Linked DNA regions of Homo sapiens. The protein of the gene in region 2 interacts with the protein of the main gene of each other region in a pairwise test. Each region holds a gene or a part of one and is shown on either strand. Other genes may lie near its edges.

Region 1 (3,655 bases), on a different chromosome or scaffold from region 2:
AAATGTTTTCTGCTGATCTGCATATTATGTTTTTATTTATGGTATCTTTTGCTATGCAAAATTTAAAATTTAGTATAGTCAAATTTATTCATCATTTTTCCTTAATAATTTCTGCTTGTCGAATCTTGCTTAAGAAATGATTCTACACCTCAAGGCTATGATAGATGTTAATTACAGTGTGGGGTATATAGAAGCTTTTTGTATTATCTTTGTAATTTTTCTGTAAATCTAAAACTGTTTTAAAATTTAAAAGAAGTTTATTTTTTAAAAAGTGTATTGTCCTATGAATATAAAATGTAAGTGAATATATGAAAAAGAAAAATCAACACATAACAAAGGACAGATTGTGATAATGACAAATACTACTGAATCTGCTTTGCCTCTGGCTTTTTAACCATTACACCAACTATCTGTGTTTCCTAAAGGTTTGAGAACAACTTTTGTCTTCGAGCAGACAAGGGATGACAGATCTCATGCCAAATATTCAGGGCACTATAGTCCTTAATACTCATTCTTGCTGGAAAAAAGAAGAACGTATACATGTAAATTATGAAAAAGATACATCAGGAAGTAAAGAATTGTAAGATGTTGGAATTTTAAAAATAATTTTATTTGTAGACTATGGTGGTTCTCAACTTGGGCTGTACATTGTAATCACCTGTTTTAAAAACATTAATGCCCAGGACATTTTCAGAGATTTTAATTCAATCACTGTGCTGTGGGCCTAGGCATCAGCATTTTAAAGGTTCCCCAAGTTGTTCTAACTGTGTAGCTATCATTATAAACCACTTATATTCAAGGAAGATAACCTCTCATTAATACCAGGTGTCTTCAGTTTGAGCTACTTTCATCTGGTAGTGGTGAAGATTGTTTCTCAACCATTCACCCTCTCCTGAGCTCTATGTGCCCTCAAGTACATCTGTAAAAAAGCTAACCTTCAGCCTGTGCCCAAAGAACAGAATTTATTTCTATGCAAAGCTAAGAACTAATAGGAATTGGCCCTGCAGTTGTTGTTCTATATAATAAACAATGGCTGAACAAGCGGGACAAGTTATTTAACCTTTTTTTGTTCATATTTTTAAAAATATCTTGAAAAAACACATTATAGGGCAAAGTCTATGTTTTCATGATGTTTCAGTTAGAGAGGAAACTCATATAAGTGAAATCTAACTGCAAAAAGCTGAGGAAAAAAATGACGCGGCCACTCTTGCAAAGTTTGCTGTTTCCTCAAAAAGCTAAATACAATTACCATATGACCCAGCAGTTCCACTGCTAAATGTAAACCTCAAAATTTGGAATCAAGGACTCTAACAGATACTTGTACACCATTTGTTCATAACAGCATTATATACAATAGCCAAAAGACAGAAACGACCCAAGTGTCCCTCAACAGATGAATGGATAAACATGTCTATACACACAATGGAATACTATGCAGCCATAAAAAGGAATGGAATCCTGATAGATGCTACAACATGGATGAACCTTGAAAACACTGTGCTAGTGAAATAAACCAGACACAAAAGGGCAAAAGTTCTATAATTCCAGTTGTATGAAATACCTAGAATATGCAAATTCATGAGGCAGAAATTAGATTGGGACTGGGGAAAGGGAAGAAATGGGGAGCAACTATTTAATGGGTACAGAGTTTCTGGTTGGGGTGATGACAAAAGTTTTACAAAGAGATAGTAGTGGCCGGGCATAGTGGCTCATGCCTGTAATCCCAGCACTTTGGGAGGCCGAGGCGAGTGGATCACCTGAGGTCAGGAGTTCAAGACCAGCCTGCTCAACATGGGGGAAAATACAAAAAAATACAAAAAAAATGTCTCTAGTAAAAATACAAAAAAAATTTAGCTGGGCATGGTGGTATGCACCTGTAGTCCCAGCTACTTGGGAGGCTGAGGCAGGAGAATCACTTGAACCCAGGAGGCGGAGGTTGCAGTGAGCTGAGATTGCACCACTGCACTCCAGACTGGGCAACAGAGCAAGATTCCATCTCAAAAACGAAACAAAACAAAACAAAACAAAAAACCCCCAAAGAGATAATAGTGGTGGTTGCACAATATTTTGAATGTAATTAATGACAATGAATTGTATACTTAAAAATGGATAAAATGGCAAATTTTATATTTATTTTATCAAAATAAAAAATTAAGAATAGCAAAAAGAAAGAAAAGAGGAAAAGAGAAAGAAAGAGAGAGAAAGGTTATGTATTGCACAGCCAAACTGAATAATGGAAATTTCCTATTAGTATATGCTACAAAACTAACTCAGGGCAGATGACTGCACTGGAAACATATACAAACTTTTATAATGACTTCATCCTAGGGAAGCAAACTGCCAACTAGAATCTGTCACATTATTAGGGCTCAGCTAGATATGACAAGCTGCCTTTTCCATTTTGCACGCCATACTTACTGGATGCTTAAGGGTACAGAGTTCATACAGGATGCAACCCAAGGACCAGATGTCACTGAAAGCATAAAGAAGCAATGTAATCACAAGCAGGTTACGTATTTTCTAGTACAAAAAATAATTTCTTACCTTTAATAAGAATAGATATCACAAGTAATTCCTAGGTATTAAAACATATAATGTTGGTCTAACACCTAGATACTTCCTAAGAGTAGTGTTCACAATAAAACTCTCTGCTTTTCAATCCCCACCCCCTTCAAATTGGGGCAGTTGAGATATCACTTCAGTAGCATTTGGGAATTCAGTAGCAAGAGGGAATATTTGCGGACTCAGATGATCACAGCTGGAAGAAGGACTCTGGAAGGCATCCAGTGTAGTTTCTATTCCGACCACCCTGGACACAGCACCCAGCCTTTGATCACATCTCCTGCTGGCAGCTCTCTACTTCCCACACAGTCTGCTGGATGGCTCTAAGGGATAGGGTTCTTCCTTTTCTTTGAGATGGAGTCTTGCTCTGTTGCCCAGGCTGTAGTGCAGCCTCACAATCTCGGCTCACTGCAAGCTCTGCCTCCCGGATTCACACCATTCTCCTGCCTCAGCCTCCAGAGTAGCTGGGACTACAGGCGCCCGCCACCACGCCCAGCTAATTTTTTTTTTTGTATTTGTTTTAGTAGAGACAGGGTTTCACCGTGTTAGCCAGGATGGTCTCAATCTCCTGACCTCGTGATCCGCGCGCCTCAGCCTCCCAAAGTGCTGGGATTACAGGTGTGAGCCACCGCGCCCAGCCCACCTTTTCTTTTTTTTAAGGGATGGGGTCTCACTGTGTTGCCTAGGCTGGAGTGCAGTGGCTATTCACAGGCATGATGTCACTGTACTGCTGCCTTGAACTCCTGGGCTCAAGCAATCCTCCTGCCTCAGCCTCCCAGGTAGTTGGGACTACAAGCACACACCACCAGGCCCAGCTCCTCCAGACTTTTCTAAATGATATTCTTTTTTATTTTAATTAATGGTTTTTACCAACTATTTCCCCGTTTAGTTTTTTTAAATTTCAAATCTACAGAAAAGTTGCAATGTCCACATGCCCTTATCTAGGTCCCCCAATCATTCTCATTGGCCATGTTTGCGTGCTAATCTCCCTCCTCTATATCTATCTGAATCTCCTGAAAAAAGGTTGCCCGCCGGGCATGGTGGTTCACACCTGTAATCCCAGCACTTTGGGAGGCCGAGCCGGGCAGATCAC
Region 2 (3,655 bases):
AAAAAATTAGCCAGGCATGGTGGCGGGCACCTGTAATCCCAGCTACTCCGGAGGCTGAGGCAGGAGAATGGTGTGAGCCTGGGAGGCGGAGTTTGCAGTGAGCTGAGATCATGCCACTGCACTCCAGCCTGAGCGACAGAGCAAGACTCTGTCTCCAAAAAAAAAAAAAAATTAGCCAGATGTGGTGGCATGCCTGTAGTCACAGCTACTCAGGAGCCTGAGGCAGGCAGCTCACTTGAGTCCGGGAGGTAAAGGCTGCAGTGAGCTGTGATCATGCCACTGTACTCCAGCCTGCCCAGCCAGGGTGACAGAGTGAGAACCATTTCCACAAAAAAAAAAAAAAATCTGTGTATACACACAAATGTTTGCATATAAATTCATACAAAGAAGAGTGGAAGGATACACATGAAACTGTTATGGTTATGCTATGTTATGGTGGCTCATGCCTGTAATTCCAGCACTTTGGGAGGCCGACGTGGGAGGATCACTTGAGAACAGGAGTTCAAGAGCAGCCTGGTCAACATGGTGAAACCCCATTTCTACTAAAAATACAAAAATGGGCCGGGCATGGTGCTGTGTGCCTGTAATCCCAGTTACAGGGGAGGCTGAGGCAAAAGAATCGCTTGAATCCAGGAGGTGGAGGTTGCAGTGAGCCAAGACTGTGCCACTGCACTCCAGCCTGGGCGACAGAGCGAGACTCTGTAGAGTCAAGGTTTCGCCACATTGGCCAGGCTGATCTCAAACTCCTGACCTCAGGTAATCTGCCCCTTCTGCCTCTCGAAGTGCTGGGATTACAGGTATGTGCCACCACGCCCAGCCTATTCATGCATTTTTTTTTTTTTTTTTTTTTTTTTGAGATGGAGTCTCGCTCTGTCACCCAGGCTGGAGTGCAGTGGCGACATCTTGGCTCACTGCAAGCTCCGCCTCCCAGGTTCACGCCATCCTCCTGCCTCAGCCTCCCAAGTAGCTGGGACTACAGGCACCCGCCACCATGCCCGGCTAATTTTTTTGTATTTTTAGTAGAGATGGGGTTTCACCGTGTTAGCCAGGATGGTCTCAATCTCCTGACCTTGTGATCTGCCTGCCTTGGCCTCCCAAAGTGCTGGGATTCCAGGAGTAAGCCACCACGCCCAGCCTCATGCATTGTTTATGAAAACTTTTAGCTGGGTATGGTAGCTCATGCCTGTGATCCCAGCACTTTGGGAAGCCTGAGGTTGGGAGTTTGAGACCAGCCTGACCAACATGGAGAAACCCCGTCGCTACTAAAAATATAAAAAATTAGCCGGGCGTGGTGGCACATTCCTGTAATCCCAGCTACTCAGGAGGGTGAGGCAGGAGAATTGCTTGAACCCAGGAGGTGGAGGTTGCAGTGAGCCGAGATCGCGCCACTGCACTCCAGCCTGGGCAACAAGAGTGAAGTCCATCTCAAAAAAAAGAAAGAAAGAAAGAAAAAAGAAAACTTTTAAAAAGCTGTGCCTGATCCTAGAGGTTTTATGTATGCTAAAGTACAAGCTTTCGCTTTTTGCCTTAAGTAATGGGAAACTCCTAAAGAAGATTAAGCACAGGCATGACAGAATCAAATTCCTTTTTTTGGGGAGGGGTGGTCAGGGTCTTGCTCTGATGTCCAGGCTGGTGGGCAAAGGTGCAATCATGGCTCACGGTAGCCTAGACCTCCCGGGCTCAAGCAATCCTCCTACTTCAGTCTCCTGAGTAGCTGGGACCACAGGCACATGCCACCATACCTGGCTAATGTTTACAATTTTTTTTGTAGAGATGAGGTCTCTCTCTGTTTCCCAGGTTGGTCTCAAACTCCTGGCCTCAAGTGATCCTCCCACCTCGGCCTCCCAAAGCACTGGGATTACAGGTGTGAGCCACTGTACCTGGCTGTATTTTCTATTCTACAGGCCATAGCCAGATGCTCAATTCTTCCCTCATACTTCACCCTCTTTTTTGGCTAAGAATTCACTGTACAAGGGAGCAGGACAGCATGTTTGTGCCCAGTCAATGAAATGTGTATTCTGAAACAGACCCAGTCATGCCGGTTCTCTAGTATTTTTTTTTTTTTTTGAGATGGTGTCTTGCTCTGTCTCCAGGCTGGAGTGCAGTGCAGCAATCTCAGCTCACTGCAACCTCCGCCTCCCGGGTTCAAGCGATTCTACTGCCTCAGCCTCCCGAGTAGCTAGGACTACAGGCACAGTGAATTTTCGTATTTTTTAGTAGAGACAGGGTTTTACCATGTTGGCTAGGATGGTCTCGATCTCTTGACCTTGTGATCTGCCCGTCTCAGCCTCCCAAAATGCTGGGATTGCAGGTGTGAGCCACTGCACCCGGCTGGTTCTCTAGTCTTAAGCCACTTTTGGTTACTGCTCCTACCTGTTCCATTCATGTAGTCCTTGGCCAGCTCAAACAACCTGAGGTGCATGTTGGTGATGGGATTGAATGAACCACAAGCAAGGAGAACCACTTCAGTCTTCTCGGAATTTTCCATGGTAAGAACTTGAAGTTGTTGATCTAAATGGAAAACTGTGACACCTCCCTTGTTGTCTACAAAGGAAAAAGAAAATAAATTCAGTTATGCATTTTTTTTTCCCTAAGATAAGGTCTTGCTCTGCCACCCTGGCTAGAGTGTAGTGATGCAACCACAGCTGACTGCACCCTCAAACTTCTGGGCTCAAGTGATGCTCCCACCTCAGCCTCTCAAGTAGCTGGGAACACAGGCACATACCAATAGGCTGGCTAATTATTTTAAAGACTAATTTTTGTAGAGATGGGGGTCTTGCTATGTTGCCCAGGCTGCTCTCAGACTACTGGTCTCAAGCAACCCTTCCACCTCAGTCTCTCAAAGTGCTGGGATTACAAGCATGAGTCACCACGCCCAGCCCAGTTATAGGTCTTTTGATGTCCTTCCACATTCTCATTCCCAATAGATGGATTAAAAGTATTTGGCTTTGGCTGGGCGTGGTGGCTCACACATGTAATCCCAGCACTTTGGGAGGCTGGGGCGGGTGGATCATGAGGTCAAGAGATCAAGACCATCCTGGCCAACATGGTAAAACCTCGTCTTTACAAAAAATACAAAAATTAGCTGGGTGTGGTGACAGGCACCTGTAATCCCAGCTACTTGGGAGGCTGAGGCAGGAGAATCACTTGAACCCAGGAGGCGGAGGTTGCAGTGAGCCGAGACTGTGCCACTGCACTCCAGCCTGGCGACAGAGAGAGACTCCATCTCAAAAAGAAAAAAAAAATTGGCTTCAATCATTATGCTAACTCTAAAAATGTTTCCACATCTCCATCCCTCCTTTTCAATGTGAATCTGCAACTTCTACCATGAAGAGATGGAAGTGACTTCTCCACATTTTTTGACTTGCTTTGGGCAAAAGAATGTGGCACAAGTGTTAGTGTGGAGGATGCCAGAACATGTGGGAGAGCACCGATGCTCCCACTGATAGACAACCACCCCACATGTGGGGAACATAGCCATCCCCGACCAGCCAACTACAGTCCATCTGCTCAGACACATAAGCAAACCCAAGTGAGATCAACCAAACCTGGCTCAGATCGTCAAGCCAACAAGCTGACCCTAGTCTCAAAAACAAAAAATTAGTGTTCATTATCATATGTCACTCAAGTTTTGTGATTGCACTATTGTGGCCAC

The links. Proteins that work in one complex are often made in the same cells at the same time.
Region 1: the proteins of NMNAT1 (region 2) and NEK3 interact in a two-hybrid assay, tested with the Homo sapiens proteins (one large-scale study listed by BioGRID and IntAct).

Annotation. Positions count from the first base shown.
Region 1 is NC_000013.11:52,145,997-52,149,651, forward strand, and holds part of NEK3 (serine/threonine-protein kinase Nek3), read right to left. Parts: intron 2,474-3,655; coding exon 2,419-2,473; intron 1-2,418.
Region 2 is NC_000001.11:9,970,907-9,974,561, reverse strand, and holds part of NMNAT1 (nicotinamide/nicotinic acid mononucleotide adenylyltransferase 1), read right to left. Parts: intron 2,545-3,655; 5' UTR 2,489-2,544; coding exon 2,374-2,488; intron 1-2,373.